Linked DNA regions of Homo sapiens: region 2 is linked to region 1. The links come from fine-mapping of genetic effects on gene expression. A gene starts in region 1. The other region holds a variant in brackets. All regions are shown on one strand. Distances are between the middles of the regions.

Region 1 (5,380 bases):
GATTTTATGCCTTTTTGCAATAAATAGGTGTTATGCCGGATTTTGGCGGGGGGGGGGGGGGGTGGGGAAGGGAAGTGTATGGCACAAGGACTTTTAAAATATACTTTTTCCTCTCTAAGATGATACCTCCCTGGAGAGCTGTGCCTTGGTTCTCAAACTTTAGTATGCATCAGAATCACCTGAGGAGCTTGTTAATCTGTAGCCTGCTGGACCCCACCCCTGGAGTTTCTGATTCAGTAGGTTGGGGCTGAGGCCTGAGAATATGCAGTCTAACATTTCCCAGGTGATGTTCATACTGCTGAGCTAAGACCATACTTTGAGAAATATTGCCTTGAAGTAACAACCCTCCCTTTGCTTAACATGCACCTCTCTTGTCATATGGATGTTGGTGTCACTATGTTGTGCCAAAAGTTACCCTGTTTTGGCCTGCATAGGCTCAACCTCCACAGAGTGACAAGGGCATCTCTTGAAAGATGAGGGCATCTCTCAACCATCTGGTGCTCAGGAAATGAAACCTTGTGAGGGTCACCACGCTTGGCTAAGGAGGCTAAATGACTGGCAGAGGATGTTCCTGGTGGTGGATGCTCAGGGTCTCTACCCCCAAACCTAGTCAGCCCTATCAGATATTTTTGAGGGGTTCTAGGATTCTTGAAACCCTGCTGAAAGGCAGCAGGAGAAAGTGGGATTTTTAAAAAAAATTTACTTCAGCCTTTTCCAGGGAAGGGGGTCCCCTCCTGAGAACAGCACGTGGCAGCAGGAGCCCTTGAGAGATCTTACTGAAAAGCTGAATTGAAAAGGAACTGGGACTTGGCCCACCCATTCATGCCCCCAGTGGGAGTTCTTTGCTCAGTACTAATTTTGGAGAAACTGAGTGTGTGTGTGTGTGTGTGTGTGTTTTATTAAGAAAGCAGTAGTTTTTCTTACAAAGATGAGCAAATTTAAAAAGATAATTAATAGATAAAATCCTGAATTGCTATTCAATAGCTGTGAGACCTTGAGCAAGTTATTCCTTCTCCTTGGATCTCAGTTTCTTCTAATCTGTATGATAAGTAGCAGGCAAGTGAGAAAGTCTGTTAGTAGTACAGTCATTCTTAAGAGCAACATGGCATGCTTGTCAGGGACGGACCAGGGCTGGAACTTGGAAGGCCTGTTGCATGGATTTGTGGATTGATTGAAACAAATTCTATCAGCATGGTCCATTCCTTCAGGGAATGGACCTGACAAGATAATTAATGGAAACTAATTAATATAAACCCCTCAACCCTTTAACTGTATCTCTCAACCACAATTATTCCCAGAAGGCCTTTAACTTTTCCACATGAAGAAGCCTGGCCTGGCAGGGAGGGTGAGTCTCCTCTATGAAACAGCCCGTGACAGACTGTTGGGGGCTCAAAGGAAATGGCAGAGGGGGTGGTCTCCTTCCTTCCCCAGCACAGAATTCCATCATCTCTAATTGTTAGGACATGATCAAGACCTCTACCAGCCTTTTAGATACTCTTGTCTTTTGTCTTTTTTTCCCTTTCTTTTCTTTCCTTTTCTCTTTTCACAGCTGTATTGAGATGTAAATCCTACACTATAGAATTTAAAGTGGACAATGCAATTGTTTTTAATATGTTCACACGCAACTGTCTCTACAATCTAATTTTACAAAAATTTCACCACCCCCCCGCCCCAAGCCCATACCCACTGATTAGTAGTCACCTACTGTCCCTCCCATCCGCTTCCCCAGCCCTGGTAACTACTAATCTACTTTCAGTTTATCTGGACATTTCATGTAAATAGTATTATAAAATATGTGGTACTTTTTTTTCTAAATAGGAGAAAGGAGACCTGATGACACCCTGATAGTCTAGTACTAAAGGCTCCCCTTCTCCTCTTTACCCCATTACTCCAGAAACAACGCCCTCCCCCAGGTTGCTGATGTATACAATCCCTCAATCAGGCCTGTGAGTGTGGAGGTGGTGCGCGGGTGCCAGCGGCAGGGCACAGGGCCTTTGGTCCATTAGACCATGAGACTGAAGTTCAAGCACATCTGGGCACGGTGGAGCAGCGGCTTGTGTGCTCACTAAGATGCCCGTGTGACTGCCAGCAGTCAGTTGACAGATTAGGTCACCCTTGGCCATAGGGCCTGAGCACTCCATTCCTAGAGGACCACAGGGTGCCAGAGCTCACATTCACCTTCCCTGACGTGGCTGGCCCAAGGCTCAAAGGCCTGTAAGACTTCTCTGGCAGAGACCCCTGCCAGAGGAGTTGAGGAGCGTCACACCCATATTCCCTTCAAGCAGCGGCAGAGAGCAGGCCTTCCCCTGAGGTTCCTGAATAGTTCTACTCCCCCGGCCACAGCCCCAACCAGGGGTAAAGAATGGGGCTGGGGCTCTCAGAGGCATGGGGTGGTAAAAACAACCACCAAGTTTTGGGTTCTCATCACCCTAAAACGTGGGGGAAATTTGATAGGGCAAAGCGTTTTTCTCCAAGCTTCCAGGGAAAGGGGGCCAAAGGAGTAGGGAGGGAAGGTGGCATAGAGCGATGGAGGGTCCTGCATCAAGGGCGCCGCGACGGGAGCGCTGTGTACTCACAGTCGAGTGAGACCGGCCGTGGGGCCGGGGCAGCGCAGGGCGCCGTCGGGCACGCAGTTGCAGGGCTCAGGGCAGAGCGCCTCGCGCAGCGCTCGTGGCAGCGGCGGCTGCAGCAGCAGCAGCAGCTTCAGCAGCTGCAGCGCCGAGAACCGCTGCTTCATGGCCGGCGAACTGGGCTTCTGCGGCTTGCCAGTGTCTTGGACGGCCTCTGAGTGCGGCCCGCACCCCTCTCCCCGCCCCTTGGCTGCCCTTCCACACACCCTTCCCTGCCGGCCCGCCCCTGCCCTCCCCCTCTTACCGCGCACCCCGCTGAGTCTGCTCTGCCTTGACCTGCGACAGTGCCCAGTGACCCAATAACCTCCTTCCTGCTACTTTCCCCTGTCTTGTCCCCTACCATCTGCAAATGGCCCTAGCTATAGGAGGTAAAGAGATTTAATGGCAAATGTTTTGGATTAGAGGTGGGGAGTTCTGAATTGAGTGAGTTGTGACGCTTCCCGGAACCCCTTTTATTTCATTTGTGAAAGGGTCCGATGGATACTCGCTATACCCACATCAGAAGGCGTAAGAGTGCCTGGCTCAGACATTTTTCCTCTCTTTTATCCTCAACCCCTAATCCTTTCCCCTTCTCTTTCACCAAATCCCTCCACTCTACAAGTAATCTTTGCCCATCCTCCCAACTACCCCAGTAATTTCTCTTGGTGGTAAATGCTTTCTTATTTATGGTATAGCTATTTGGCTTGGTCCTGTATCTCTTCTATAGATTGGGAGGTCCTTGAGAGCAAAATCCAATTCAGATTTATTTTTGTATTCCTTCTGGCTTCTACATGGTAAGTCCTCAGTAAAGATTTGTTGAATGAATGAATGAAACTGCCTAATACTGGTAGCAGCTGCCCCATAGAAGGCCCAGGATAGGCTAGACCTTGTAACAGGTGCTCTGCCTCACATCATGTTTAAGCTCCACATTGAACTAGCAGGGTGTTTGCGATGAGAAAAATGTCCCAAGAGGTATGTGGCTTCCCTGAAGTCACACGGTTTTAAAGTAGTGAAACCTGGAACTCATGTCTATCACCTACCACCTCTCACCAATGCAAAAAGCTGCTATGATCTACATACCAAAGAACTTAGGAGACAAAATTTTACGGTAATCATGGGGATCCATAATATCCCCTCTTTGATTTGATCATTTCTTCCTTCCAAGGATTCTGTTTGGATTCTGGAAATCCTAGCAGTTTTGCTGGAAGAGGTGGACTTTGAAAGCTGGGAAGGCATTTAAGGCTTTGAAGAGAGGAAATATAAGAATAGATTTCTTTCACTCTGAAGCCAGTTCTCAAGGATGGGCTCCTTCATTCACCATTCTACAGTCTGTTGCTCAAGGAGGGTAGATTATTATTATTTTAAAAACTTGTTTGGCTTTGGCCACATTGTGCTAGATGGCACAAAAACAATGCTCATGTCTATAATATTGTCTTCTCTGGATCCTCTCTTCAACTGCTTATAGATGACTCCTCACCCTTTAATACCTCTGCATGGGCTGTCCCCACTATTTTCTCTTCTTTTTCCATTATTCCATTAGATAAACTCCCAGTTGTCCTTCAAGACTCAGCCCAATGTCATTTCCACTTTGATTCTTCTCTGAGTCATCCTAGTTGAGTAGTTGTGGCCATAACACCTGGTTCTACAGCAGGTAATCTAACACACTGTAATTGTGGGTTTAATTTTGCTTTCCCCTCTCTATTCATCTCAATATCAACAGAGCATGTCATAGCTTCTAGCTCCTAGTAGGTGTTCCATATGTGTCTGTTGAATAATAGAGTGAATAAGTGAGGCCCAGATTTGTAGTAGATGCTCAGTAAACTATCTGAGAAGAGCTTGATACCCTCACTTGCTTTATTCTCAACCACGCTGGATCTATCTGGATATGTAAAAAGTAATTATACATGACGACTTTGGGTGTCATGTTCTCTGTTCTCTTTTAGTTTTGTCAGATTTTGGTAGGGAAGTTGGGGTAGGCACTGGGATTTTTAAAAGTTTTCACCATGTATCTTGAATGGAAGGAGAGAAAGAATGAATAACTCAAGGTGCCTGAATGGCTTTTCTTTCAAGTCTCATGTTTTATGTGACTTTTTTCTTTTTTTAACCCTGTAGTGTACCTGTTATATATAAAAAAAGTTTGCTCCCACCCACCCCTGAATCTTTGAAAACAATGGATATTCCAGAAGAATCATTTAATTCTGTACTCCAGTAGGAGGACTAGGCAATCAGAACACTAGGATTTTCCTTCTGTTTCTGCTGTCAATCATGAGATTTGCCCTTCAGTCTCTTCATCTGTAAGAAGAAGGGTTGAAGTTCACTATCCCTAAGGCTCTTCTGGCTCTAAAGATGCAAGGACTTTCTAAGCAGCTCCTACAGAATTGCTAGTGGGAGGAATTGGATTGTATATATTGACTTCTTATAACTTGTCTTGGATTGGAAATAAAATCCTGTTTATGAGGAGTTGAGGTTGTTCGTTTGGAAGAAAGCTAACAACTGTAATGAGTTTTCATAAAATTTTACTATCTAGATTAATTTCAGTTGGATCTTAATTATCACATCAGTTCTTGCAATGTAACTATTATAATAAAATCATATTGATTCATTTGTTATAATCACAAAAGTTTGTTACAATGGAATTTACCTATCTTATTCATTAATACTCATTATGAGTGAGTATTTTTAAATCCAAAGGACTTTGTTTCATTAACTATGCTTATAGCTACTTTGTCAGAGAACTTCAAACCAACATGACCCACAAAGATTGCTGATTA
Region 2 (5,380 bases), 21 kb before region 1:
CTAGGAAAGAACACCTCCATGATGGGCAGATGAAAGTAAGATTTCTTACAGTCCCAGAAGGGACTTGCTACAGTTGTAAGCTACTATGTGAGTTATACACACCCATTTGTGACCTTCTTTTACTCACTCAACAATGGTGTGAGGTGGGAATTTCTCTTACATAGCAGAAGAAATTGGGTCACAAAGAGACTAAGTAACCTGAACAAGGTTACAACGAGGCAGAATGACTCCAGACATCCTTTCCCTGTGCAATACTGGCCAAAGCATGTCACTCTTAATCCCATGTCTTGGTGAGCAAGGTGGAGGGACAGACATTGCAACCTTGCTTCTCCTGAGAGGAAGCATGTCACATTCGCTCTATTTCTTCTGCAAAGCGGTTTACCAGCCGTTCCTCCCTAGGTGCTAATAGGGAGGAAATTTCATTTCAGAAAAATATTTTCACTCAATAATCTCTTAGAAATGATATAACCTAGAGAAAGTAATCCAACTTTGGTCTCTGATTCTATTCCCGAAGGCATTCCCAAGAAGGACATCGTTTAACACCTAAACTCATTTAACAAAGGATCCGAGAAGAACAGGGACAGTGTGGGAAGAAATCTTCTTGTGATGGCATATTTGCTTCCTATATTTCTTCTGGAATCATGTTCGCTTGGCTTCCTGATTAAAAACACAGTTTTATTGCTCTCTGCACTGCCAAACCAATAAATTTACAGAAGAGAAAGCTGTATTCCACTGTACCCCTTGCAGCATCAATAAAACTGACAGCCAAATTCTGATTCCAGAATCTTTATTGCTGGGGATAATGCAGTGCAGAACATATTTTGGAGAGTGTTTACATAAAAGCTTCAGCAGAACACTTCAGAGCTGTTTATTCATGCAAATGGAGCCCAGAAGCTGAAGTCTCTCAGCAGGCAGCCTCCTCCTCCAAATGGGAGCATGGTGTGACTCCCAGAGGAGCAGTTTGGTTCAGATTTGATCAGGGAGGTTGCCTGAGCTTTTGATTGATGTAGGGAGGAGGGATGAGGAGCAAAGGTCGGACAGAAGTGCAAGAAGCTGTAGATCATGCAATGGCAGTCTCCAGTGGCTACAGAAGCAGCCCTGGTGCAAGCTGAAATTTTGCAGCGTTGATGTTGATGCTGCAGAGCAGGAAAGGCAGCAGTGGGGAGAGTGAAACTAGAGCCTCCCCTATAAAAGAGACACCAAGTGAACAGCAGGTGACTTTGTGGATATGGCTGGGTCAAGAAAGAGTCCTGGGGGCCAGGGAATGGGGAGAGAGGTGGGGTTAGGCAGGTGCACTGTGCTTTTCACAACAGATGTGTTCCCATGAGGCAACACAGAGAATGTGGTCCTGTGAATCGAAAACCATTTTCCCTACAGACTTATATGTTTTTTTTTTCAGAAATGTCACATCTTCATTTCTGATTCGTCTTTGATGGGTAGCAGTTCCTAAGCATTCAAGTATCTGTCTCCAGAATTTATTAATAAAGTTTATGATTTGTTGATAACTGTTTGAATGTACTCCCTTTGAAGGTGTCCCACTCTCTATTGGATGCATCTATGATTCTTTCCATGATGCCAGAAACTTTTAGCAATGTGAACAATGATCTTAATAACCCTGCAATTCCACTCCTGTATACATTGAGAAAAATTCTCAAATTGATACTTAAAGGAATCTTGTACAAACGTTTTCTTCACAGCATTGTGGCATCAGGGGCTTGGAGGCAACCTGGGTGTCCATTACTAGGTGAGGGAGTATGTAAAATTTGGACCGTACACACCTAACTGAATAGGAGAGCCTGTAGAAGTGAGAGTCTAAAGGCACACAGAGTAGCATGGGTGGATCTTCAAATCATGGAACTGAGAGAAACAAGAAATTACGGAGATATAATATACTGTTTGCAGAATTAAAATATATGTAAACGAAACACTAGACATTAACCTCCTCCTGCACATGAACATACACTAGGATTGTTATCTAAGGTGAGTTGAGAGGAACAGAAGTGGGAGAAGGAGATAAAATAAATAACTAAAAACAGAGAGGGACTTTGAATGGACTAGTGATAATGTTACTTGAATGAAGAAATATGACCAACTTAACCCTCTGTACTAGAGAGACAAATGGAAAATAAAAAAGGTTTATTTTGATGTATTGGCAGCCTGCTTGCTTACCTTTCTTCCTCCTCCTTCCTCCTCTCTCCCTTCTTCCCTCCTTCCTTTCCTTTCCTTCATATTTTTTTGGAGTTAGGCATACTTGTATTCCAATAGTTTTGTGAACTATTGTGGAAAGGTCTAGTCGGTATCATTTGATATAGAGCAGAAGCCAAGGAGAACTGAGGGCAAAAATGCCTAAGGCAAGGACAGTTCAGCAGCTCTGCTGTCCAGGGTCAAAAAAGGAATGAAAGCTATGCATAAAGCAAAGAAAATAAAGGAAGGACAGAGCCCTTTCTGTCTCAGCAAAAGAGGGTGATACACCACAACTATGCACCTCAGATGGGTGGTAAAGAATTAGGGTTACTGGGAAAATATGAGGTTGAACTTGCAGGGTGGAGATTCTCTCTTGAAAGGTGAGACGGCTGTGGAAAAATATGGCTGTAGAACTATGCAGCTACTTAAATTTATTATATTTTCACAGTCTTTTTTGCAGTTTTGAACTTTTGTTTTTAAATAAATTGATGAGGCAACGCAGGTGGCACCTTGCCCAAGTGCCTTTGCCACAGATGTTGAAACAAATGCTTCAATTGGATTACAAAGTCTGCGTTAGCTTCATCAGCTT[G/T]GAACTTCCATCTACTCATTAATCTCATCTGCAGGTCCCCAACCCTTCTAGTTGTGTGTTAAAGTTGAAATCGAAACAGTCTGTCCTCCTTAGGGCTGGAATTAAGTCATTCATCCTAGTACTGGGATCTTGTGATTGGTCATGACTCTGGCGAGGCTTGTGCATCGTCTAAACTGGACCCAATAATATTAATATTTGGGGGCAGGAGTGCACCTGCAGTGCCTTCCCACATGCTATGCTGGTGTTTGTTTTTGTCTCGATTTCTTATTCTGTAGCTTGCTTGGTCTCCCCAGAATCCATCTAGGAGTAGGGCTTCTCTTAGTTCCTGCCTTCTCTTTTTCTCAATCACCAGATCCTGATCCCTGTATCTCTACCCCTTAGGGAACACTGCTGCCCTAGAACAGTTCCTGGTTGCTGTCTGGTTAGGGTCAAGCTAGTATCTCTTACTGCTTAGTTCTGACTTTCAAACTGGGCCCCTTGGCACAGACGGTGACCCTGTGTTAGGACTACCCAGTGGAGTTGGGTTACTTTCTGTAGTGGATACTGTGGTGGGCTACCCAAGTCACTCTTTAGTACTGACGCACCAATTTCGCCAACTGCTAGGAAAGAGTGGGTGGCTGAAGCTCTCAGCTGAGTTGCTCTCCTAGAATTATGCTTATAGACTGATGTGGTTTGGGTCTGTGTCCACCCAAATCTCGTGTCAAATTGTAATTCCCAGTGTTGGAGGTGGGGCTTGGTTGGAGGTGATTGGATCAAGGGGGCAGATTTCCCCTTTGCTGCTGCTCTTATGAGAGTGAGTGAGTTATCATGAGATCTGGTTGTTTAAAAGTGTGTAGCACCTCTCCTCTCTCTCTTCCTCCTGCTCTGGCTACATGAAAATGTGCTTGCTTCCCTTTTGCCTTCTGCCATGATTGTAAGTTTCCTGAGGCCTCCCTAGCCATGCTTCCTGTACAGCCTGCAGAACTGTGAGCCAACTAAACCTCTTTTCTTTGTAAATTACCCAGTCTTGGGTATTTCTTTATAGCAGTGTGAGAATGGACCAATACACAGACCAAGATTGCTACCTCACCCAGGATTATGTCTTCTCTTTTGGGCAGCCCTCATCCAGTGACTGGACAATGTATAGAATAAAGGCCCAGCCCCCTTGCCTCCGGGTGGGACTACTCAGAAGGACCATCCTATCTTTAGACCTTCTTCCTATCAATTCTTACCTGGGCCCTGACTTGATCCCCTTCCCAGCCAAATCCAATTGCCAAGCACTCAGTGCAGCTGTGTCAGAGTCCAGTGACAGGAAAATTTACAGCATCCAGATAAATCTAATTACCTTAAAGAAGATAACGCCACCTTATCATGTCCTCCCTGGTGGTTTCTAATGTCTCCTGGGTACCCAGGATTGGGGCTTGGGCCCCTCTTCTTTTTTCTTTTGAGTTTAATGACACAGATGGCCTTGGAAGGAGCCAATTTGTCCAGTTTAATTTTTGTTAACTAATCCTCAAAGTAATGTTACCTGGAGAGCTTCAGTCAGGTGGGCTCTAGTGTCCCCCTTTAAGAAAATAGAAGATTTGTTTTGTATGTTATATATATTAAAAATTTTAAAAAAATCTGGAAATCCTTGCTTATAAAAACCTATCAATTGGGAGACATATGCACTATCAAATATTTCTTTGTTCTATAGATGGATTTACTGCAGGGTTGCTTTAAATAGCAAACTCCCTGGGTGAATGGAAAATAGAGTTCAATTGACACACTCTCTCTTTTTAAGGACAGGTATTGCATAAAGCAAATTATAACTGTAGGTTTCTCACCTCCCCTTGGTTTTTCAGAGCTTGAATACAAGATGTTTCCCAGGGCAGGGAAGCCTTCTGATGCCCTCAGGCTGAGGAGGTGCAGAGGGAGAGAAGAGCCAGGGAAGAAATGCAGCACCAATCTGGAGTCTCCAAAGACTGTATAGGCTCTTTGGTCACTTGCCAGAGCTTTTACTTTTCCTTCTGCCCAACACATGGCAGAAGTGAAGTGTTTTTATTCACTACCTTCTAATTGTTGTTAAAAATGCCAACTATATTATTGATTTAAGAAAGCTACAAACATCCATTCATTTTCCACAGATAATGAGTTTATTGCTAGAGCTATATCCTGAATTCTAAAACACTACAAAATCAGATGAAGGGAAAAAAGAGAGAAATCAGAGAGTTAAAGCTTTTTTGCCTAATGAACTTGTTGAAATGGGAAGAGGTTTATTTAATTATTTAAATTCAAAAGAATTTGGTGTTTTTGTATTTATTAAGATCTTGTTCTACACTTAACAGTGTCTTAAGAAGTTCTGTGTTCTTTTCAAAGCTGCTCACAATGATAATAAACTTGCTTTCATCTTAGAATAAAATAAAAATAGCTTTCCTCTTTTGAAATGATTTTAAATCTTTGAGCTGTCAAAGGCATCGGACTATTTGGTGGCTTCATTACAGGGAATGTCTTCACTTATTGGCCTATTGTCTTCAGCATTTACCTAGAGGGAGCTGAGGCTTCAGTGTTAACTGAAATATGAAGTCAGTATAGATGAACATCCAATATGTTACGCTTTACACCAGAAAACTTTGGAACAGTCTTTAA

Evidence for each region. PIP is the estimated chance that this variant, and not a neighbour inherited with it, causes the effect.
Region 2: its variant is fine-mapped to the expression of LHCGR in visceral fat (GTEx, PIP above 0.99). The same link has a PIP of 0.9 or more in subcutaneous fat.

The regions. Positions count from the first base shown.
Region 1 is chr2:48,752,935-48,758,314 of GRCh38, forward strand. LHCGR (luteinizing hormone/choriogonadotropin receptor) reads right to left here and starts at 2,790. Exons shown (of 11, transcript NM_000233.4): 1 at 2,577-2,790. The coding sequence starts at 2,737. All of the region lies in intron 10 of STON1-GTF2A1L (STON1-GTF2A1L readthrough), which reads left to right. RefSeq lists an enhancer at 2,348-3,124.
Region 2 is chr2:48,732,379-48,737,758 of GRCh38, forward strand. The region is part of intron 10 of STON1-GTF2A1L (STON1-GTF2A1L readthrough); the gene reads left to right. The region is part of intron 1 of LHCGR (luteinizing hormone/choriogonadotropin receptor); the gene reads right to left. Among named protein-coding and RNA genes, the nearest start is that of LHCGR, 21 kb to the right of the region's middle. The variant G/T (reference allele first, on the strand shown) is at 2,774.